2 linked regions of the Homo sapiens genome follow. The protein of the gene in region 2 interacts with the protein of the main gene of each other region in a pairwise test. Each region holds a gene or a part of one and is shown on either strand. Other genes may lie near its edges. The genes, in order: CHIA and RBBP8NL.

Evidence for each region.
Region 1: the proteins of RBBP8NL (region 2) and CHIA interact in binary tests that used the Homo sapiens proteins (3 or more experiments, as listed by UniProt).

Annotation. Positions count from the first base shown.
Region 1 is NC_000001.11:111,286,015-111,293,850, forward strand, and holds the start of CHIA (acidic mammalian chitinase isoform c precursor), read left to right. Parts: upstream 1-4,836; 5' UTR 4,837-4,936; intron 4,937-7,836.
Region 2 is NC_000020.11:62,420,474-62,436,466, forward strand, and holds the start of RBBP8NL (RBBP8 N-terminal-like protein), read right to left. Parts: upstream 7,067-15,993; 5' UTR 6,987-7,066; intron 1-6,986.

The sequences.
Region 1 (7,836 bases), on a different chromosome or scaffold from region 2:
TACCTTCTGCTCCTGCTGCAGCTGGTGATAACATTTTTCAGATATCACCTCACCCAGCCTCAGAAGTTGTTGTGCAATAAAAGGTTGAGCATTACTGTACAATCGCTTCTGCTTCTTTACTGTAGGATCTTAGATGTAATTGATCCCTATTTCCCAATGATATACAGTTGCTCCACCAGCACCCAAGCCTGCAGCATGCACTGCTAGTCCTGGATGTTGGGTAGCGGAAGCAGGGGGATTAAAGGAAAATACATGGTCCCTTCATTCTCAAAACATGTATTCAGATGAAGGCTGGGGAGCCCAAGAATGTAAGACTCAGATAACAATGACCCATAAGCAAATGTCATTTTAAAGTGATTGATTTGCCCTTTTGGCTGAGAATGCACAATTAGGAGGCTATTGCAGTGATTCAGGGGAGAGGTGCAGGCTCAGAACAAAGTAGTAGCAGTAGAAGTGGTCAGAGGTGATTGAATTTCAGCTGTATTCTTAAGATTTGTTAAGCCAGCAGGTTTCTTTATGGGTTGCATGTAGAACGTGGGAGACAAAAAGGGGAGCCAAGGATAATTTCAACATTTTGGCTTAAGAAATTGCAAATATGAAATTATCATCAACTGAAATGGAGAAAGCTAAAAGTAGAGTAGATTATGAAGGAAGAGCAGAAGTTCAACTTTGGACATGTTGAATTTAAGATTGTTATTGGGTTTCTAATTGGAGATGTGGAGTAGATAGTTGGACATAACATTTTTAGAGGTAGTTGGTATTTATAGTTGGACATAACATTTTTAGAGGTAGTTGGTATTTAAAGTCAATAGATTAGATGAGATCATTAAGGGAGACAGAGAAAGGAAAGCATTCAAGGACTAAGCCCTGAGCATTTCAGCATTCAGAGGGAGGCTGGAGAGAAGAGTAGGAACAAGTAATGAAGACCAAAAAAGGAGGGCTAAGTGAGGTAGAAGGAAAACCAAGTGTCAAGTATCCTGAAAGCCAAGGAAAGAACCATATTAAGGAGGAGAAAGCGATCAAGTTTGTCAAATACTACTTAGGTCAGGTCAGATGAAGTCTGAGAATTGACCATTATGTTTAACAACCTGTAGATCATTGACAAACTTGACAGAAGTGGGGTTGGTAAACATCTTGGTGGCAAATGCCTGAGTGCAGTAGGTTTCAGAGAGAATGGAAAGGTAAGAATTGAAGACAGTAAGGATACAAAAACCTGTCTTATATGTGTTAAAGGGAAGCAAAAAATGGGATTAAGAATAAAAGATTATGGAAAACAGAAGCTGAATTTATGTTTTCAAACCCACATTTACTTATTTAGAGATATGGGAGATAAAAATCTAACATTCTTTCCATACCTCTCACTTTCTTATTTTTATTATTATTTTCACAGAGTCAAAAAATTTTTTTAACTTAAAAATTTTTATTTTTGGGACAAGGTCTCATTCTGTTCCCCACGCTGGAGTACAAAGGCACGAACATGGCTCAGTGCACCCTCGACCTCCTGGACTCAAGCAATTCTCTAGCCTCAGCCTCCTAAAGTGCTGGGATTACAGGCATGAGCCACCACATCCAGCCCCAAATTTTTAATATCACTTTGTTTTATAACAGAACTGAAGTCCTATATTTAAATCAATGCAATATTCATCCCCTATACTTACACTACAGCTTATCCAATATTCATTTCTTTAATTATCTTGTTGTTTGTTTTGTTTTTGTTTGCCAAGAAGGACTTGGAGTATCTTCCATTTTCTTGCATGTATGAAAGTGCCTGACTGTTGCCTTTATACTTGATTGGTAACTTTTTGGACATAGATATTGGCTCACTCTTTTACTCAAAATTTTGTAAATATTACTGCTTTTTATTCTGGCATTGAATATTGAGCTAGTGTTTTTCCTATGGCTCTTTCATTTACTTTTTCAGGTTTGGATGTTTTGTAGTTGAACAGTTTTTTCAAGTAGTTCTGTGGCTGCCACAGGCCTTAAGTTCTTTTATACGTGAGAATATCTGCCTGTCTCCTCGGTTCTTGAAAAGTATACTTCAAGAATATTATACTTGGTAGAGTATAATACGATAGGCTTGTACTTTCTTTTCCTCAGAACTCTTCAGGTGTAGACAAAACTTCTTAACATTATTTCAAATCATCTCTGCCTTACCTTTTAATTCCAGTTGAAGCTACAGCCACCAATTCTGCATAAGCCTTAATGGTCTTCATGGCGTTATGGAATCTTACCTCAGATCTGTGTTGTGTACTTCTTGCTACCCTTCCTAGGGCTTCTGAGATACAGGTTTCCACTCAAGCAGGTACAATCTAGACATGCAGAGGGGTTACTGTCACTTACAAACATCAGGGAAACGTAATGTTTCCACCTTTCCTCCCCTGATGTTCTAGAAGCACATTTTGTAAGACTTTTAACACCGTTCCAAAGGGATAGAGCATTTAGTTGTTTCTACCAGTGGCTAATATGATAAAAGCATGATTTTATTGGCCCTCCCTTCTTCCCTGTTTCACTCCCCTGTCTCTTACTTATTCTTTGCATTCCACTCCCAAATTACTCTCACATGAGCTACTTCCAGGTGAACTTAGCCTTAGATAGTAGGCATTGCTCCACTGTGTCCTGGCATTGAATATTGTTGTAGGGATGTTTGAAGACAGTGGATAATCACTACCCTTTCTTTAATCCACACTTTTAAAGTTATTTGATTTTTTTCCTGTGAGTGCCTGAAGAATTCATGATTTATTCTTGAAGTTCAATAACTTAACAAGGTTATACCTTGATTATGATGGTTTTTGTCAATTTCTCCTATAAAACAGTTGAGAGGTAAGATTTAACTTGCCTGAGTTAACAGACCTGCAGGCGGCCTCCTGGAAAAGAAAGTTGGCCTGTTGCCTCTGGAAACCAGCTATAATCTATAGCCTAGGTCCTAATGCAATCCATCCTGGCAGAGAGCTGACCATGGTGAATGAGAACTTCAGCCAAGTTTACACCAAGCAGTTGTGCATAATCACGGGGTTGGATTACACCAGAAGAAAGCCAAGTGTTCTCCCAACAGATGAATGCTAAGGTAGTAGATAAGACTGAAAGCCAAGGTTCTGCTATATCATACTGCTATTAGATCCCATATCCTAATCTCACTAAAGAAGAGTTTTGTTAAGAAGCTTAAAAGTCCCAACATCCAAAGCCCAGAGCCTCTTTCTCAGAGCTAGATATGTGCTATGTTAGATTGTTGTATGCTGCCTGAGAATAAAATAAACACCAGAGGATCACTCATCTGCCATCGCTTCTGTCTCTGACTTTTTACCCAGAAGTACTATTCCAGAAAGCCCAGTGTGCATGCTGCTTGGCTACTCACCCTGAATCACTTGACAACTGGTGTAGAGAGCTGGATGTCAGACTAGGGGCACCTACCATGGCCTTCTAGAAGTGAACCAAGGGACTTGGGATTTAAAAAGTGTTTCTCAGATGATCCCATCGCTTTCAAAGATTCGTATGGCAGTCATGGGGACTAGTCCACTAAATTCCTGAAGATACAGAGTGATAAAAGTGATACTGCGTAGTTAAGATCATCGAGCCTAGCATTCCATGATTGTTATTATTGGCCTTGGAAGAATTAGCTCTAAGGAGGCAGACCGAGGGGAACTTGACTCAGCATCTTGAATGAAATTACAATTTGAAAACTTTGGTGAATGTGAAATGATTTATATATGGTCTTATCCAAGCAGGATCAAACAAATTCCATCCTCTGACCCTCTTCCTATGACTGATAGGATCAGTTCAAGATGGCACAGGTTGTCATGTTATTAGGGTGTTATGAGCTCCAGTTAAATGGGTGCAAAGGGAAGGAAAGACAAAGTATGTGACTTATGAGGTTAGTTCCCTCATAACAAGTGAAGAAGATAATCTGAAATAGGCTGATTGAACTAACCGAACTTCTGGGTAGACTCCCACTATAGCTCCGTCTTAGAAAGTCTATGTGATTACTGCTTCTATATAAAGGGTTAAACATGATAAAATTGATGATGGTCCCTATCTTTGTCTATGGAAAAAAATATCCAGTGAGTTTTGGGGGAACTCATGACCCAAGTCATAATAGGAATTTCAGGCTTCATAAAGACATCATGGTTGAAGCAGAGGTGTTCTGTTTCCAGCAAAGCCCAACAGGAAGCTAACTTTTGCTTTTTGAAAGGAGGATTCCCCACCAGACTGGGAAGCAACAGCCTAGGCTCCAGAGTCGGACACTGGACTTAAGTTGTTATCAGATGAATTTGCTCAGCTGCGTACTGTTGTGTTACAAAATCAAATGGCATTAGATACGCTTACCTCAGCCCAAGGAGGGTTTTGCACCTTACTGCATACTGAATGTTCTGTGTATAGCCCTAACAATTCTCACAATATTACTCACAAAGCCATGTTGGGTGTGGTTTTTATTAATTGTGCTTTTAATTCTGCTGTACTTAACCTGTATCTGTAAACTATATCAAATATCCCTTCCCCATGTATCTGTAAGGGTATTTTCCTGCAATTGAGTATCAGATTGAGGCCAAATGTGGAGGAAAAGTTAAATATTAAATTTGAACTCAACTGAACATGGACACAAACAATGGTCACCAAGTCCCGGAACAGGTTGTGTGAGCCCCTTGAGGCGTTCATCCAGCACTGTTTTGGAAAAATCTCTATTTCAATCTAGTCCTATATGTTAGTTATTGAAAAAAATAGACAGTCTCAAAAAACAAGCTGACCTTTTTATGTTCCTTGAACCTAGTTGTGAAGGGCCCTTGTTACTGGGCCTCATGCCAAACAACTCGTTACAAAAACAGCTAGAGTCCCAGACGGTGCCAAAGCTTCATGAAACCTCCTCGTCTGTGCACGAACAGGTGGCCGACTCTGGAGCCCAGGCTGTTGCTTTCCAGTCTGGTGGTGAATCCTCCATAGTCTGGTGAGTGTAAATATATATATATCTTTTCCCTTCTCCCTTTCCCATTGCAATTTGATTGTTATATCAATTTGCTTATTATATCAAGTTGTTTATTATATCGTTTGCTTATTACATCTGCATTGCCATTTATGTGAGATAAAGGTTGTTTACCCTTAAAGGTATTGTGTGTGTGTCTTTTCTCCTCCCCTCACACATCTCTCACACAGATCATTTTATACCCAAAGGGATATAAATCATTCTACTATAAAGACACATGCACACGTATGGTTATTGCAGCACTATTTACAATAGCAAAGACATGGAACCAACTCAAATGCCCATCAATGATAGACTGGATAAAGAAAATGTGGTACATATACATCACGGAATACTATGCAGCCATAAACAGGAATGAGATCATGTCTTTGCAGGGACATGGATGAAGCTGGAAGCTATCATCCTCAGCAAACTAACACAGAAACAGAAAACTAAACACTGGATGTTCTCACTCATAAGATGGAGTTGGAACAATGAGAACACATGGACACCGGGAAGGGAACAAGAAACACTGGAGCCAGCTGAGGGGTTGGGGGCAAGGGGGGGAGAGCATTAGGACAAATACCTAATGCATGTGGGGATTAAAACCTAGATGACGGGTTGATAGGTGCAGCAAACCATCATGGCACACGTATACCTATGTAACAAACCTACACATTCTGCACTTGTATCCTGGAACTTAAAGTAAAATTTTTTTTAAAAAGGGGGGAAAAATATATAGCAAAATGCAACTGGAATTTCCAAATGAATTAGTATTTTATTTAAACATCTATATTTTAAAAATAATTGTAATAATGAGAATACATAGACACAGGGAGGGGAGCAACACACACTGGGGCCTGTCGGGGGGGGGTGGGGGTAGGGAAAGCATCAGGATAAAGAGCTAAAGCATGTGGGGCTTCATACCTAGGTGATGGGTTGATAGGTGCAGCAAGCCACCATGGCACATGTTTACCTATGTAAGAAACCTGCACGTCCTGCACATGTATCACGGAACTTAAAATAAAATAGAATTAAATTAAATCTTAAAAATAGTAATTGTAATAAATTTATATTTGAAACATGTAAGGTATTTAATTCACACACAATGTTTTGTGTGCAAACTCCCCTTTCCCCTATAATTACTCCTCAGCTATCCAAGGACTTGAGGTCTTCAGATTGGGAAAAATAACATTAACTAAAATTTATTAAATAACTAACATGTGCTAGGCCCAGTGCTAGGTAGGTTATCTCATTTAATTCTCACAACAACCCTATAAGACAACAACTAGTATTATCCATATGTAATACATGAGGAAATTGAGGTTCACAGGTGAAATAACTTGTCTAATGTCACATATCTAGAAAGAAGGAGAACAAAAATTGAAATATAAGTTAGCGATTCTAGAGACCATGCTGATATTCTGTTCTGTCATATGGCAACCTTTGTGCTGGACAGATGTGGGAGAATGCTCTCTGCAATTGACTGGCATTGGTTATTCTAACAGTCTTACCCTCTTTGTATGTGAATAAACTGGCATTCTCACTTACATTGACTGCATGGGCCAGTCTCCGTTATCTTTTTTTCCATGTTTTAAAAATGTTTTTCTTGTGGTAAAATAGACCAAAACAAATTACCAACTTAAATATTTTAAGTGTACAGTTCGGTGGTACTAAATACATTCATAATGTTCTTGAGCCATCTCTCCTTTCCATCTCCATAATTCTTTTCATCATGTAAAACTCCAGCTCTATACTCATTAACCTGTAAGTCCCCATTTCCCCCTCCCCCAGCTCCAGGAAACCACTATTCTACTTTCTGTCTCCATGATTTTGACTATTCTAAGTATCTCACATAAACAGAAAAATCATATATTATCTGTCTTTTTGGACTGGCTTTTTTCATTGAGTATAATGTCTCAAGATTCATCCATGTTGTAGCAAGTCAGAATTTCCTTTTAAAGGCTGAATAATACTTTATTGTATGTATATATAACAGTTTTGTTATCCATTCATTCACTGAAGGACACTTGAGTTGCTTGCATGTTTTAGCTATGGTGAGTAATGTTACTGTGAACATGGAAGTACAAATATTTCTTTGACACCAAGCTTTAAGTTATTTTGGGTATACCTAGAAGCGGAATTGCTGGATCATATGGTAATTCTATGTATGATTTTTTTAGGAACTTCCATACTGTTTTCCATAGCAGCTGTACCGTTTTACATTCCCACCAACAGGGCACAACTGCTCCAATTTTTCCACATCCTTGTTAACACTTATTATTTTCTGTTTTTTGATAGTAGCCATCCTAGTGGATATGAGGTGATGTCTCATTGTAGATTTGATAGGCATTTCCTTAATGATTAATGGCATTAAGCATCTTTTTATGTGTTTATTGGCCATTTCAATATCTTCTTTGAAGAAATAGATATTCAAGTCCTTTGTCCATTTTGAATCAAGTTGTTTGGTTGTGTGTGTGTGTGTCATTGAATTTTAGAAGTTCTCTCTATATTCTGAATATCTCTTATCAGATAAACTCTTTGCAAATATTTTCTACCATTCCGTGAGTTGCACTTTTACTCTGTTTGCATTGTCTTTTGATATACAAACATTTAAAATATTCATGAAGTCCAATTTGTGCATTGTATTCTTTTGTTGTCTGTGATTTAGGTGTCATATCCAACAAATCATTGGAAGTCCAATGTTATGAACTGTTTGCCCTATGTTTTCTTCTAAGAATTTTATACTTTTACATCTTACATTTAGGCCATTGATCTATTTTGAGTTAATTTTGCCTATGATGTTAGAAAATGGCCCAAAAACATCAATGGGGCCAGATGTGGTGGCTCATGCTTATAACTCCAGTGCTTTGAGAGGCCAAGGT
Region 2 (15,993 bases):
CAAAGACAGACACACCACACAGCATGTATACACACAACACACAGGCACACACCCAGAGTTACACACATACAACACATATGTACACAGACAGGGATGCCCACACACAACACACAGAGACACATAGACATGGGTATACGCAGACACATGCTGACAACAAAGCTGTGCAGACATAGAGACACAGCTACACATGCAGTTGCAGGTACACGGAAACACACACAGCCACAGCAGCCCCCTCTGCCCGGAAGCGGCTCCCACACGCAGATGCTGGAAGGTTCCAGGAAGAGGTAGGAGCCACTCTGAAGAGGTCACAGGCCCCCTCCCTCCCTGCCTGCCTCCCCTACCCACAGGTCTCAGGAGGTCCTTGGTAGGCAGTGGGTATCTTGTGGTCTCACGGACTAAGGCCAGAATTAAGGGGCCGTGGGGCCTTTGCAGGCTGGGCCTGGGGACCTGGGCTGGAGCACTCATCGTCAAACCCTCCCAGACCTTTCCAAATTCCCAGTGGCCTGGAGAGCTCCCAGGCAGGGCTGGGCGGAGTGAGCCTGGGGGCGCTGTGACTGTCTGTCTGTCCTCCCCTGACCCTTCCCCCTCCTCCCACAGATTGGCCTCCAGGCCTGGGAGGTTGGGATACCGGTCAAGTGGCTGGGCCTCTGCAAGCCAGTGTTTGTGGCACACAAACCGCTGCAGTTCAGACTTCTTCACCGGGTGGCTTGTGCTTCACGCGGTCGGGTGGGGGAGTGTGTGTGTTTGCCGTGTGTGTGCACGCCCGAGCCAGTGTGCATGTGTGTGCCGTGTGTGTGCATGATAGCCAGTGTGCGTGTGTGTGTGCCATGTGTGTGCACGCCCGAGCCAGTGTGTGTCCCATGTGTGTGCACACCTGAGCCAGTGTGCATGTGTGTGTGCCATGTGTGTGCACACCCAAGTCAGTGTGCGTGAGTGTGCGTGTGTGTGCCGTGTATGCGTGATTGCCAGTGTGCATGTGTGTGTGCCGTGTGTGTGCATGCCCAAGTCAGTGTGCATGTGTGTGCTGTGTGTGTGTGATAGCCAGTGTGCATGTGTGTGCACACCCAAGTCAGTGTGCATGTGTGTATGCCATGTGTGTGCACGCCTGAGCCAGTGTGCATGTGTGTGGCATGTGTGCATGATAGGCAGTGTGCATGTGTGTGTGCCAGAGCCAGTGTGCATGTGTATGTGCTGTGTGTGCATGCTCAAGCCAGTGTGCATGTGTGTGGCATGTGTGCATGATAGGCAGTGTGCATGTGTGTGTGCCATGTGTGTGCATACCCGAGCTAGTGTGCGGGTGTGTGCCATGTGTGTGCATGCCTGAGCCAGTGTGCATGTGTGTTTGCTGTGTGTGCACACCCGAGCCAGTGTGCATGTGTGTGTGCCATGTGTGTGCATCTGTTTTTGCTCTGTGTGTGCGTGCCCAAGCCAGTGTGCATGTGTGTGTGCTGTGTGTGTGCATACCCAACCTACTGTGGAACCACTGGTGCGTCACCTGAACAACTGTGTCGGCCTCCTCCCTGCCTGGCCTCCTGCTCAACCTTCCCTGAACCCCCTGCCTCCCCCCATCTCTTCCAGGACCACTCTCCATGGTGGCCATCCCTGGGAAGCTCTGGTCTCTGCTCAGATGTGCACCGCTCTGCTCAAAATCCAACTTCGGGCTCGCAGCTGGAGGCCATGCCCAAGGCCTCGCCACGGCCAGCCCAGCCCAAGTGGATCACAGAGCGGAACAGCCATGGCTGCATCTGGGTTCTCAAAGGTCAGCCTGGAGACGCCCACGTGAGGGTCCTGTGTGCAACATCATTCTACAGAACCGTCCCGAACAGGACCGCCTAACCCCATCCCATGACGGGTGGAATATGGTGGCCGCCCAGCCCCATGCCCATCCCAGCGTGGCCAAACCACCCAAGCCAGGCTTGAGGGTGCATTGAACACAGAAAGAGGCACTTGCCCTGGGGCCCTGGAAGTCAGGTGGTGGGCGTCTTTGGGGGTGGGGCTGGGGTGCCTCTAACTGAGGGTGGCAGGCCTTGGACCCCGAGAGAGGCCTTGGGACCCCGAGAGAGGCCATGGGGCCTGGGGTGGGGACGGGGACTGGGGTGGGGATGGCGACTGGGGTGGGGACGGGGACTGGGGTGGGGATGGGGCCCGGAGTGGGGATGGGGCCCGGGGTGGGGATGGGGACCGGGGTGGGGATGGGGACCGGGGTGGGGATGGTGACTGGAGCCACTTGGAAGGAGGGTGTCCTAACTCTTGCCGAGCCCTTGCACCTGTGATCAAGCATTAGTGCCGAGCCTGGTGGGGCAGCAAGGGGTGTGGGACAGAGTGTGGCCTGTGTTCGGGGGTGGCTGCAGCGTCCCCAGGGGCCCCTGACAGGGCTAGTGGGGCTGCATGGAGGGCGGAGCACCAGGATGCTGGGCTGCAGAGGCTCAGTCCACAGACCCGCCTGGGCTTTGGGGCCTCCAGCCACCCTCGGAGGGAGTGGGGGTGACAGTTGGCGGCTCTGTGTTGGGTGGGTGAGGGATCCTGGGACTAGGGAGACTTGGGGCTTTCCTGGTGGGAGGCTGGGAGGGATGTCTTTGCTGGTGAAGGGGACCAACAGGACGCTGAGCTCCAGAGGTGGGGACAGCATGGAGCCTGCCGGAAGCAGGTCACGTGGCCAGCATCAGTGGTTCTGACCCTGTTTCCCGAACTCCGTACACACTGAGACCTTCCTGACAGCCCACGGAATCTTGACCACACCACGAAGACCTCGCTCCAGATGGGGAAACTGAGGCTCAAACAGATCAAGCCTCCCGTCTCAGTCACCCAGTGGGAAGTGGGATCTGGGTTGTGCCCAGCTCCTGGGGCTGTGGGTCTGCATGCTCTGCCTGTGTGGACTGGGGCGTCCTCCCCATGGCTCTGGTGCACCCAGCTGCACTGGCTTTTCCTGGCCAAGGGGGCCCCTGGGAGGAAGATGTCAGAGCCGGGGCCTCCCTGGGCTCAAGCAGCTGAGGAGGGCCAGGAGGGGGCGGAGCTGCAGCTCCTGAAACTCCCCCCAGACCCGCCCAACAGGCCACTCTTCCCTGGCCCCCAGCATCTGCCATGTGGGCTGGGCCGACGCCCATAAAGGAGCCGCCCAAGGGAGCCCATGGTGCCTGCGGGCCTGGGAGAGGTCTCTGGGGTCCACACGAGAGGTGGGCTTCCTTCCCAGTGAAGTCACTGTGGTGCAGAGGCTGGGACGGAGCCTCTGCTGTGCCTCCCACTCACAGGATCCTTTCTGTGCCCGAAACCACCTGCAGCACTCCTAGAGTGCTGGAGAGCTCCGGGGAAGGGATGGGAGGTGGAGGGAAGTTGCAAGCCTTGGTGCTTTTGGGGAGAAGAAATGAACCAGGATTGTAGAAATTCACCCAGACCCGCACCCGCAGCCTTGAGCCAGGGGTCAGCAGCGGGGTCAGTGGGGCTGGCTTTTTCTTCCCGAGTCAGCCTTCTCTGGGTTTGTTGGGCTTGCCAAGGGCAGCTAGGGGTGCTGGGGCTGGGGGAACTCGGAAGGAGGGTCTCCTCCAGGCCTGGGTGGGGGCTGCAGTGGGGCTGTGATGGGGGAGCAAGCCTACCGGGGCGGGGAGGGGCTGGGCTGAGGCTCATGGGGGGCTTCACAGGGCTGGGGTGAGAGAGCTGAGCTCTGGTCCAGGGTCACCCTCAGCCACTCCTCCCACTCCCAGACCCTCCCACTCGGGAGTCCAGGCTGGAGGGTCTCTGTGGGTGCTGAGCCCCCTGGAAGGAGTGGGGGAAGGGGAGGGCAGGCTAGTGAGCCGCTGTCCCACCTGCTGCTTGCAGCTGGGCCGTGGGGGGGGCAGGTGTGAGGGGCGCATGTCTGTCCCCCTCGACACCACTCTCACCCCACCATGCCTTGCCCTCTGCTCCATTTTGCCACTGAGAACACGACCCAGAGGTGGCGTCTTGCCCACGGTCAAAGCTAGTGAGAGCCGGGCTGGGCTTCAGCTAACCCAGGCCGGCAGCTCCGCCTCCTGCAGTGAGGTGCTACTGGTGCCAGCACCTTTGCCTTCGGGGGACTGCTCCTTAAAACCAAGGGGCGACGTGCTGCTCTCACCAGAACGGAACAGAGCCCATCCAGTAAACGGGTGCCTCTTATCCCCCGGACAGGGCCCAGGAGAGCCCTCCATGGGGAGCCTGAGGCTGGCAGACCACCTTCCACCTCATGTCCTCATCCAGGGAATGGACATGCACTGTGGGCCCTGCCTGTCCCTCAGGACTCCCACCTCCCTCTAAAGGCCCCCCAGAGCCTGCACCTGCCCTCCTAGGGTCTCCACCCACTCTCCCAGGGCACTCTGGAGTGGCCACTCAGAGGGGGCAGAGGTTTGCTGTTGTTAATCCTACCTCACGCATTCTCAGAGCCCCAGCAGAGAGGGTGCACCCCCCCCACCCGCTGAGCTGGCTGGGGCGGGGCAGGGGTCGCATTCCTGAAGGGTGCTGGCTGGAGAGTCAGTCTGGGCGGAGGGTAAAGGTGTGGGCTTCCCAGTCAGCAGCCCTGGTGGGGCTCTCGGACCCATCTCTGCTCTCTATGCGGCCTTGGGCAAGTTGCTTTTCCTCTCTGAGCCTGTTTCCTCACCTGGGGGTGACAGCACCCCTGCCCCTGTATCAGGCTGCTTAGAAGCTCCTCACAGGTAATGCCTGTGTGGCCAGGAGCTCCGTAGACAGGAGCGCTCAGTGAGCAGCCGAGGGAGACCCCGATTCACCTGCGCCTCCCTCATGACCTGCGCCTCCCTCATGTGGGACCCCAGGTGTCCAGCAGTGCTGACGGCAGGACCCTCTGTGCTTGGACAAGGTCAAGTCTCATTGCCACAAAGGCCTTGTGCAGGAGGACGCAGCCCTCCCCACGCTCAGGGCAGAGGTCCGGCTTCTGACGGTGATGACACTCATCCTTGGACGGCTGCTCACTACGGACTCCAATGGGCTCACGGCATCTCTGTGGCTACACCCAGGGGAGATGCCACCTGCCTCCCACACACAGGCCAGGGAATCACAGGCCCAGCTGTGGCCCTGGCAGGACTGGACATTGTCCGGCCGAGTGCCAAAACCCACAGTGATGCCTGTTCTTACCCTGTCCTCTGGGAGGCCGGGCCCCCTGAGCTCCTCTGCTGTCTGAGCAGGAGGCATCCGGGGCATCACTGGGCTCCCCGCCTCTCCGAGGGCACTCAACCAGAGAAGCCGCCTGGGCACCAGTGCTCCAAGGACGTCTGCCAGGCCGGCTGCTCTCCACCCCAGCCACCGACCCCCAGCAGGCTCTTTGGGGCAGGAGTGCGGAGCTGGACACTGGTACCCTCCGTCTCTGAGGCCTGGGCTGTCTGTATGTCCATCTGACTGACTGCCCACCTATCCAGGAGCAACGGTGATGGCCACAGCAGTAGCAGTGGCAGTGGCAGTGGCATAGCAGTGGCAGTGGCATAGCAGTGGCAGTGACAGTAGCAGTAGCAGTGGCAGTGGGAGTGGCATAGCAGTGGCAGTGGCAGTAGCAGTGGCAGTGGGAGTGGCAGTGGCAGTGGCAGCGGCAGTGGCATTAGCAGTGGCAGTGGCAGTGGTAGCAGTAGCAGTGGCAGTGGTGACAGTGGCAGTGGAAGTAGCAGCGGCAGCGGCAGTGGCAGTGGCATTAGCAGTGGCAGTGGCAGTGGTAGCAGTAGCAGTGGCAGTGGTGACAGTGGCAGTGGAAGCAGCGGCAGCGGCAGTGGCAGTGGCATTAGCAGTGGCAGTGGCAGTGGCTGCTGTTGATCACATACTGTTCTGTGTCAAGCACCACACCAGGCTTTTTCCCACTTGCATGGGCACTGAAACCATCCTGCAGCTTTGCTGAGGAAGCCAAGCTCAGAGTGGTGCCCTCTGCACCTTGACCCGCTTCTCCCCAAGGGATTCCCCTGCCCCTGTCCACCTCCTGGCTGCCCCTGTGGAACACCCACTGCATAGCTAGGTTGGGCACATGCATGTGGCCGGGGCCCACCTGGCCTTGGAGGAAGTGCTGATTGTCTCATTCTACAGGTTTGGACACTGAGGCTTGAAGCAGATCAGAGATGAGCAGGTGGAGCAAGATTTGGACCTGGACATGGCCTCAGAGTCTCCTCCCACCCTCTGTGGTAATGGGCAAAGCCTCTCCCATGGAGACTTCGGCCAGGTCGCTTGTCTGGCCGTGCCTCAGTTTCTGTGACTGTAGAACAGATGTTGGTGGTGAGCCCTGACCCAGGCTCCTGTGCACACACCGCCGCAGGGCCCCCGGGACAGCTGCACACGCATGTTGTGTGTGCACATGCACTCGTGTACCCCACACGCGCGTGCGCCCGTGCACTCGTGTGTACACATAAACAGAGGAGCCAGCCGAGGTGTCCCTGCAGCTCAGGCACAGCAGCCCTGCAACCTGACTCCCTCCCGGAGGTGGAGGTGGGCCGGGCTGCTCTCCTGCCCTGCCGGCTGGCTCCCTGAGGCCTGGCCCGTGGGGGAGGGGGTTGAGCAAGGCCCGCCTTTGTGGCTGCTTCCCCACAGACACAGCGGCAGAGGAGTCCCCTGCTCAGTGCCCAGCTGCGGGTGCTGCACCCCTGCACCACCCTCACCCCTGTGGCTGCGCCCGCTTATCCTCTTGTGAACCTGGATGGTGGGGCGGGACAGGCCCAGGGTGGAGGGCGAGGCCACCAGCCTGTCCCTGATGCCCCAAGCCCCTCAGCAGACCATGGACACTTCCTGGGCCCTGGTGCCAGACTAGGCCTGGCCTCTTTGCACCCAGCTCCTGCCAGGAACGCCCACTGAGCTCTCTCCGTTGCTAGGTCCCTGGACCAGGAGCAGCCTTGTGCCACCCCTTAGGGAAGACGTCCAGTCCCACCCACCCCCGCGGCTCTCCTCGCAGGAGTCCAAGCTGGGCCTCCAGCCTCCCTGGTGAGCACCCCAGCCAGGGATCCCAGCTCACCCGGCTACTTGGGTGGCCTGGCCCCGGGGTCCCGGGTACTCACATGGCTCCTGGCCCTGCCTCAACCTCTGTCGACCTCTGCGCGGAGTCCCCCACGCTCTTCACAGGGAGAGAGAAGTGAGCGGGCTGTGAACCTGCACAGGCAACAAGACAGGATTTTGGCCAAACCCGCTTGACAGGTTTTCGATTCTCCCAGCCAGGAGCAGAAAGGAGGCAGAGACTGCCCTGAGCCGCCAGGCGGGTTCTGCCATCTCGCAGAAAGTGGCCGGACAGGTTGGGTCTGAAGCCACATAGAGTTGGGATTGTTTCCTCATAATCACTGTGAGGCTGGGCTGCAGGAGCCAAGCTGGTTAGCACTGAGAATCCAGTTTGGTGCCTGTGACACGGAGGGCCCGGGCGGGGAAGGGTGGGGGGCTTGCAGGGGTGCCTGGGTCGGGGGCTGCAGGTGGGAGTGAGCAAATGTGCTGTCTCGCCACCTCGGGACAGGTGGTAGGGCCTCTGACACAGAGTGGTCCTTCCTGCTGTTCACAGCTCAGCTCACCGTGGGCTGACCATAGGTAGGTGACAGTCCCCTTTCTGGCCTCGGTTTCCCTGTCTGTAAATTGGGGATAATAAGCTCAAGAGCTGTCCCTGCCAGAACCCAGTGGACAGAAATCCAGCAGCTGCTATGGGAAGCGACCCGCCCAGCCTGCCCCGCCCTGCCTGGGGAAGCAGGCCTTCTGCTTGAGGGGGACTGGGCGCATGCTGGGCCTCTGGTCTGCGCAGTCTGCCCGGGGTCTGTGAGTGCTTGTGAGTGGGCTTCTCCAGTCTCCAGGTAGGCTGGGTGCCCCCGGCCAGGTGGAGCCCAGGGGGGCAAATAGGCTGGGGGCTGGCCTGGCCCCGGGTGGCACGGCCCAGGTGCTGGAGCAGCCTCACACTGTGGTCTCGTGTGTGTTCCCTGGACAGCAACACTGTGGCTGCGGGGTACAGCCCTGACCCCCTCATGCCTTGCCCCCTGTGTCCTACCCACGACCCCTCCCCACTCCCTCCTCCCCGCCTCCACCTCCGCCTCTGCCTCATCCTCAGCCTGTCTTAGCTCTGCACGGAAGCAGAGCGGGGGTTCCCGAGTCCTTGGGGCCATGATCCCCAGCGCACCCGAGTACCCCAGGAATGCACGGGGCTCAGAGGAGGAAGCCTGGGAGCCTGGCCTGTAGCCGCTGCCGCGAGGGGAGGACGGACTTCCTGCTCCCTGGCAGGGCCCCTGCTGGTGGCTGGTGGCCAGCTCTGGGTTTGGGATGAGGGCTGGGTCATCTCTGGCCCCACGATGCCCTCCCACTCAGGACCAGGCTCTTGGGAGGGGGTTGTGGTCAGCATGGGCCACTCCAGCTCTGGCTGGCCTGGGAACTTCGTGGAGGCCCCTCCTCCGGCCACCTCCCTGTTCCTGGCTGGGCCCTTTGTGAGTGGGGTCTGCTTGCTGCTGGCGTGTGTTTTGTGTGTGCCTGTGTGGGGACTGTGTGCACGTGTGTGTGTGTGTGTGTGTGGGGATACGAATGTGTGTGCATGTCTTACATGTGTGTGCCTGTGTGTGCATGTGTTGCACGTGTGTGTGTGCACATGTGTGCGTGGACATGTGTAGCTGCTTTGTGCTGTGGTCTGGATGTTTTTTGTGTCTACCCCAGATTCTCGTTGAAATCCTAACGCCCCAGGCAATGATGTTAGGAGGCGGGGCTTCTGGGAGATGGCAAGTTCGTGAGGCTGCAGCTCTGCTGGGGGATCAGTGTCCTTCTACAAGCGGCTCCAGGGAGGTCCCTTGCCCCTTCCACCATGTGAGGACCCGAGATGGTGCCGTCTATGAACCGGGAAGTGAGTCCTCTCCGGACGTGGAACAAGTTGGTGCCTTGATTTTGAACTTGCAGCCTCCAGGTATGAATGTGAGCTCTGGGCTCACTGCCTGTGGGGAGCCCTGCCTCACAAGGAGGGGTCCCTCTGCATCTGCCATGCATGGCTGTTTCAATCAAAGCTGCTGTCTAACACCACCGGCTCGACCTTGAGTTCCTCCCTGAGCAAAGCCAAGCGACCTCCTGGACTGAGCCAGTTTTCGTGCCTGCCTGCCCTGGCTCATTGGCCAGGGACCCCACCCCGCCATGTCCAGGCCTTGGTGATACAGGACAGAGGTGCCCGTGCAGGTTGTGCCTGTGGCTGGGTCCCCAGGGAGAAGGTGGCAACCCCAGGCCAGCAGCCTCCTACCCTGAACTCCAGGCAACATCGTCGGCCCCCTGGCACTGCACCTGCACTGTGGGCAGAGAAGGAGGGAAGGCTGGGAGAGGAGGAGGAGGTCGAATGTCGCTGGAGGTCGGCGTCCTTCTGCAGCCGTGGGTTTGTGTGCCCCTTTGTTCATTCATGCAACCATCCAAGACCCATTTCCTGGCTGCCCACCAGGCCCTGTCCAGGCTCTGGGCACATGGATGGCCAAGAACGTGACTCACACATTTACGGGGCTTTTGGCTGTGAGAATCGGGCACACAGAGGGCACTGTCTGAGTCTCAGTTTACTTGTCCCTTGCAGGGCTGATGAGGGTGAAAGGGGTTCCTCTCCTGGTACCACTCACCTGTTCATTCATTCAGCCGATGTCTGTTGAATCCTGATCAGCCAGGAGCTGGGGGGTGTGATGGACACCCAGGCACCGGCGTCCGGGCTCGCAGGAAGCATTGCAGAATGAGGCAGCAAGGCCTCAACACGCTGCTGGCAAACCGTGGCCAGGTTTCAGCGTGGGGGCTGCTCCATCGCCCCATTATACAGCTGAGGAATGAGGCCCCAAGTGTGTGTGTGGCCTCCCAGCCCTGGCAGCCACCCCCACCTGCACCTGAGGGGCTGGGGCTGCTGGGCCTGGGGTGAGGGACCAAGAGGGCTCTTCATGGCCCCCTACACCTGCTTCCTAGGCCAGATGGGGGCCCAATGCCCCACCCCAGAGGTGAGGCAGCCTTTTATCTCTGAGCTGGGAGGGGTGGGAGATAAGCTTCAAAGGCATCTCGCTGTAAAACGCACCTTTAAAAGCCGGCCCTGCTGCCTGGTATTTGTGTTACTGGAGCGATAGATAAAGGGTGGGGTGGCCAGTGCAGTGGCCAGGTCAGGCCAGCCCTGCAGCCCTGGCCCCCAGATAAATGGGTCACCTATTAGCACGGCCCTGCAGGAATGGGACTGCCTTCTGTGACAACCGGGGCCCATCCCCACCCTCCCTGCAGACAAGCCCTTGCTGGCCCGGCTGGGGGGCATCCTGATGGCGGGTGCTGTGTGCCCATGGGGCCAGGCTGCACTGGGCAGGAGGGGTGCAGATGTGGGCCCTGCCTGGGCACTTGGGAGGGCGGAGGCTTTCTTGGTGGGGGGAAGGATCAAGCCCCCCGTCTTTCCTCCACATGGTCTCACTGCTAGTCACCCTATTTTATGTTCTCATGATTTTTATTTGTATAGCTTCATGGGGTTTAAGTACGATGATGCTGCATTGAGACGTTGTACTGTGTGAAGTCAGGGCCTTCTGTGCATCGGTCGAGGGTGCAATGCACACGGCACCCCCGAGCAGCCACCCATCCTCCCTTCCCTCCACCCTGCGAGGCCCCGTTGTCCGTCTGTCCACACTCTGCTCCATGAGCACACGTGACTTAGCTTCGCCTTGTGAGTGAGAACCTGCAGTATTTGTCTTTCTGTCCGAGTTGTTTCACTTAAGATAACGTAGGCACCCTCTTTTAAAAATTACTTTTTGCTAATACAAGAACTGCAAGGATGCCCCCTGCCCCCTCCTGCGAAGCACTAAACATGACAAATAAGACCAAAGTCTCCTTTTATTGTCGCGTCTCATCCCCTCCCCAGGTGAGCCGCTGCTTGGGGTGAGCATGCTTCCTGCTGGATGCTTCTCTATGTAAGCACCTGCCTGAGTGTCAGCCCTCTTAAGGTGAACCGCTCCGTGTCATTCGTACATTCACAAGTTTGTGCCGCCATCATCGTGATCGGATTCCAAAACATTTTCATCACCTCCAAGAAAGCCTTGTACCTGGCAGCAGTCACTGTCTCTATGGATTTGCTTATTCTGGACATTTCATAAAAATAGAATCAAACAGCATTTGGCTCTTCGTGTCTGGCCTGTTTCTCTGAGCACGATATTTCGAAGATTCAGCTGGGTCTCGCTCCTGTTCCTGGCTGAAGCTGAATAATATTCCAGTGCACGGCTGGACCACAGTCATCAACTGACGGACACTTGGTGGTCTCACATTTCCACTGGTGTGAATAGTCCTGCTGTGAACATGCGTGTGCGAGATTTTGGTTGAACACTTGTCCTCAGTCCTCTTGGGTGTGTATCTAGGAGTGCAATTGATGGGGCTTATGGTAACCCTAAGTTTAACTTTCGTTTACTTTTTTGAGACAGAGTTTCGCTCTTGTTGCCCAGGCTGGAGTGCAGTGGCACGATCTCGGCTTACTGCAACCTCTGCCTCCAGGATTCAAGTGATTCTCCTGTCTCAGCCTCCGGAGTAGCTAAGACTATAGGCATGCGCTACCACGCCCAGCTAATTTTTGTATTTTTAGTAGAGACGGCGTTTCACCATATTAGTCAGGCTGGTCTTGAACTCCTGACCTCAGGTAATCTACCTGCCTTGGCCTCCTAAAGTGTTGGGATTACAGGTGTGAGCCACCGCGCCCAGCCACTGTAGTATTTTTAAGAAGTCTAAATTAATGGGAAAAATTCACAATGAACCAAATAACCAAGTTTTATATAAAGACAGGATTAGGGTGAGGCAGGCGAGTCCCTTACTCTTGGGGCTGTGAGAGTGTGGGGTGGAATCGGCTCCAGGGTCCCAAGGTGTGGCCGGAGAATGGGCCTGGTAGGGAGACCTGGGCATGGTGCCCGTCTCCGGCCTCTGTCCTGTAAGGGTTTGCCTATGCCTCCGCCTCATCAGATTGCTCTAAAGATAGGACACAGCAGCACACGGGGCCCAGGCTGGGGTGAGTGGACCCCTCCCTGAGACCTTCATCTGCCACCGAGGTGAGGACAGCCATCAGCCTCCTCAGAGCCTTAGGGTCTGATCCCTCCTGGACCGGCCCACAGATCCCCAACGGACTGGAGTCCCCTGTGGCTGCTCCCCTCCCTCTCCCAGCCAGCTCTTGGGCATCCAAGCACCCCTCTGCAGGGAAGCCCTCCATGACTGTAGGTAGGTCAGGCCTTTTCCCAACAGGCCTGTAAGATGCAAGTCTTGGGTAGAAACTGTGTATTGGCTCAGGGGTCTTCAGGGTGCTACCTTCTTGAGACAGGAAGTGTTTGCCCGTTCATTGCTGTCTTGGCCCCTGGCATATGGTGGTACTTCATAAACATTTCTTCCTTTCTTTTTCTCTGAGGCAGGGTCTTGCTCTGTTGCTCAGGCTGAAGTGCAGTGGTAAGACCATAGCTTGCTGCAGCCTTGAACCCCTGGGCTCAAGTTATCTTCCTACCTCAGCCTCCTGAGTAGCTGGGACCATAGGTACACGCCACCATGCTTGGCTAAATTTTTAAAAATGTTTTGTAGAGATGGGGGTCTCTCTTTTCTGCCCAAGCTGATTTTGAACTCCTGGGCTCAAGCGATCCTCCCGCCTCGGCCTCCCAAAGTGCTGGGATTACAGGTGTGAGCCACCGTGCCTGGCCCTGGTGGGTTGTGTCTTACCCAGAAAACTCAAGTGCTAAGAGGCAAAGCCTAAAGGTTCCTCTGGGCTGAGACGGGATGGGCCCTGCTTGGTGAGAACTGGGGAGTGGTTTAGGGGAGGGCTGTGTTTCCTAAAGAGCCGACAGAAGCCTTTTACTCTGGCTAAACTATTTGTTCCTATACCTTTGTTAAATATTATGAAAATGAGGGTACCTGTGGAATGGGGACCCTGTGTGTGGAACTGGGGGGATGGCTGGGAGGGGTCTTCCCAGGCCAAGTCCTGGTTGGGCTCTTGCCTGGGATGTGTGGGGTGGAGGCTCCGGGGAGGGGGCAGAGGTGCCTGGGGGTGAACCAGCGGGTACCCCGGGCCATTTTGACCTCTGACCTCAGCTTCCTTTTTGAGACAGTGGGGCTGCCTTGGTGCCTCTCTCCTGGAGGGTGTGGGTTAAATGAGAGGGGTTCTGTGCCAGGGCCCAGGGCTGTGCCACTCACTGAGGGTCCTAGCGACACTCCTGAGATGGTTCTTATTTTGTCACCATTTTCCAGGGCAGTGCCAGCCTTGGCAGACGGGCCGGACAGAGGAGGGATGATGGCTCAGGCTGGCAGGGGCTGCCACGGGGCAGCGATGGCCACCTCGAGCCTGGCCAGTGCTTCTGGACTTCCTCTCTGCTGACTTTGTTCCCTGGCTAGAAACAGTTGTGGCAGCGCTCCCAGACCGGGCGTCTGCACGGAGTGGCCTCAGCTTCCTTGAGCTGTGGGAATTTAACGAGAGTAAAATGGGACCATAAATCTCTGTCGGTCGGGATAACTTGATCCGTGATTTTGGAGGGCAGGCCGGAGCAGGGACAAGGAGGTGTCTGTGATGGGAGCGATCCCCGGACTGAGCTGGGCTGTCTGCTGGCACGTCACAGATAATAAAACCGCGTCGTCCTGCAGCACACGGAGACTGTGTCAGATCGAGATGTCATAACCTGTGCCTTGTGGCCAGGAGCCTGGTGTCGGGGAGGCACGGTCCATACATCACAGATCCCACGCACATCATAAAGATACATTAATGGTCTATGTGTCTTTAAAGAAATACTAATATTGTTGTTTTATGAGAAACTAGAGTTGAAAATATTAAAAGTCAGAATTTTATGGCCTAAAAGAAAGTTAAATGATGAGGATGTGGGAAGGGAGACTGAAGTATCCGTCACCGCCCGAGCCAGAGTCCTGGATGGGGACATGGCGGGGGAGGGGCCGCCTGGCTTTGATGAACTTGGCCAGCTCTGGCAGCCTCTGTGTGAACCTTCGGCTCAGTTAGAAGCTTCCTCCTTGGGAAGGGTTTGGAAAGCCGAGATAGAGGACGAGGGCATTGGGGTTGTCCAAACAGTTGCATGGCTCGGCAGTGGGACACATGGCAGGAACAGGGCCTCCAGGAAGCCCAGGCCCTCCTGTTTTGGGGCATGATCAGGGAGCGTGGATGGGGACACCCAGAGGACTCGGTCTCACCCAAGCCCTTTCCAGAAGGAAATCCTCCTGGCTTGCCACATGCTCCTTGTCGGATGACAATTTCCTCTGGTGCAGGTTTAAATTTTTATGTGACAGATCGGCTTGAATGACCCTTGGAAAAGGAGCAAGTGAAGGGGCAGTGGAAGGCACCGTGGATGGCACCGTGGATGGCACCATGGATGCCTGGGGTGTCAGGGGCGAGGTCCTGGCCTGAGCCATGCAACCACATGTGGGGCCGAGTCCCCCAGACCCAGGGACCAGCTCCTTCCACCCTGGAATCTGCGTGCAGCAGGCGCTGATGAGCGTCTGTGGACGAGGGATGGATTGACCTGGGTGAATGCGCCTGTGGGCGAGGGATGGACTGATCCCTTTTCTTCGCTGGCTGTGCCCCTTACCCACGGCTGTGCTCTGTGCTGGAGTCAGTGGGGAATTCGGGGCCTGAGGGCTCTTTGCAGCTCTCTCTTGCCCCATTGTGCCTGCGTGAGGACCCCTGGGACACGGGCACACCCAGGGTGAGGATCTGCCAAGGCTTTGCTCAGGGTTTAAGATGCTTATTACTAAGGTGAGATTTCCATGAAATAAAATCACTCATTTTAAGGGAGTCAGTTCAGGGGTGTTTAGCGCATTCACTCTGTCATGAGCCAGCACCTTGACCTAGTTCCAAAACATTTTCCTGCCCCCAAAAGGAGACCCTGTGCCCATTAGCAGGTCCTCCCCATCCCTCCCTCAGCCCTGGCGACACTGCCCTGCTTCTGTCCCCGGATTTGCCAGCTGGGTGTTTCGTGTCACCGTATCCACGCCACGTGCAGTCTCTTGTGCGTGGCTTCTTTTCCTGAGCACTGTGCTTTTGAGATTCACCTCCATGGTAGCTTGCACCTGTGCTTCGCTCCTGTTAAGTTCTGGGCTGCATGGACGGACTGCAGTGATCTGCTCATCCGCTGATGGGCATCTGGGTGGCCTCCACTTTTGGCTGGGAAGAGGCTGCTGTGGGTGTCCAGGCACACTCCTGCCTTCGGCTCTTTTAGGTGTTTTGCTCAGGATTTGAGACACGTTTTCTCTCCCTCAGAGGAGCACCTGTTGAAGAATCATGACCTCTATCGAGCATTTACCTGGTCACGGACATTTTGCTGAAGAATTCACAAGTTCATATAAGGACACGCTTCATCTCAAGTGTCCAGTTCAATGAGTTCTGACAGATACGGACAGTCGTGTGACTCCAGATCACAATGTAGGACGTTCTGGTCACCACGGGCTCCTGGATGCCTCTTCCTAGTGAGTTTCACCCCATGCCCTGCTTTCTATTGCAGGAGATTAATTCTCTTATAGGATTTTGTATAAATGGAACCACACTGAGGCGGGAGGTGGGACTTGACCCTAGAGACAGGGCTGAAACTCTGGACCAGATTGAAGACTGGCTGAGACAGGGAAGAGGCATCTCTCCATAAGATACCCACCAGTGCCAGGCCAGTTTACCATTGCCACGGCGACACTTGGGAGTTACTCCCCCTTTCCATGGTGATGACTTGGAAGTACCACTCTTTTTCTAAAAATTCAGAATGCAGGTATGAATATGAGTGCAGCACTGCCTCTGAGCAGCTGCTCTGGGCTCGCTGCCTGTGGGGGAGTCCTACCTCACAAGGAGGGGTCCCTCTGCTGCTGCTGTGCACGGCCGCTTCAATCAAAGCTGCTAACGCCACCGGCTCACCCTTAAATTCTTTCCTGGGCGAAGCCAAGAACCCCTGTGGGCTAAGCCCCAATTCTGGGGCTCACCTGCCCTGCAGTGGTGCTCTGTGTGGCTCTGATGTCTGCCAGAACAATGGACTGGAGGCCTGTGTGTGTGGCACATGTGCCTTGTGTGGGTGGCACTCTGCTCACCCATTCACCTGCAATGGCCGTCTGGGTCATTTGCACTTTTTG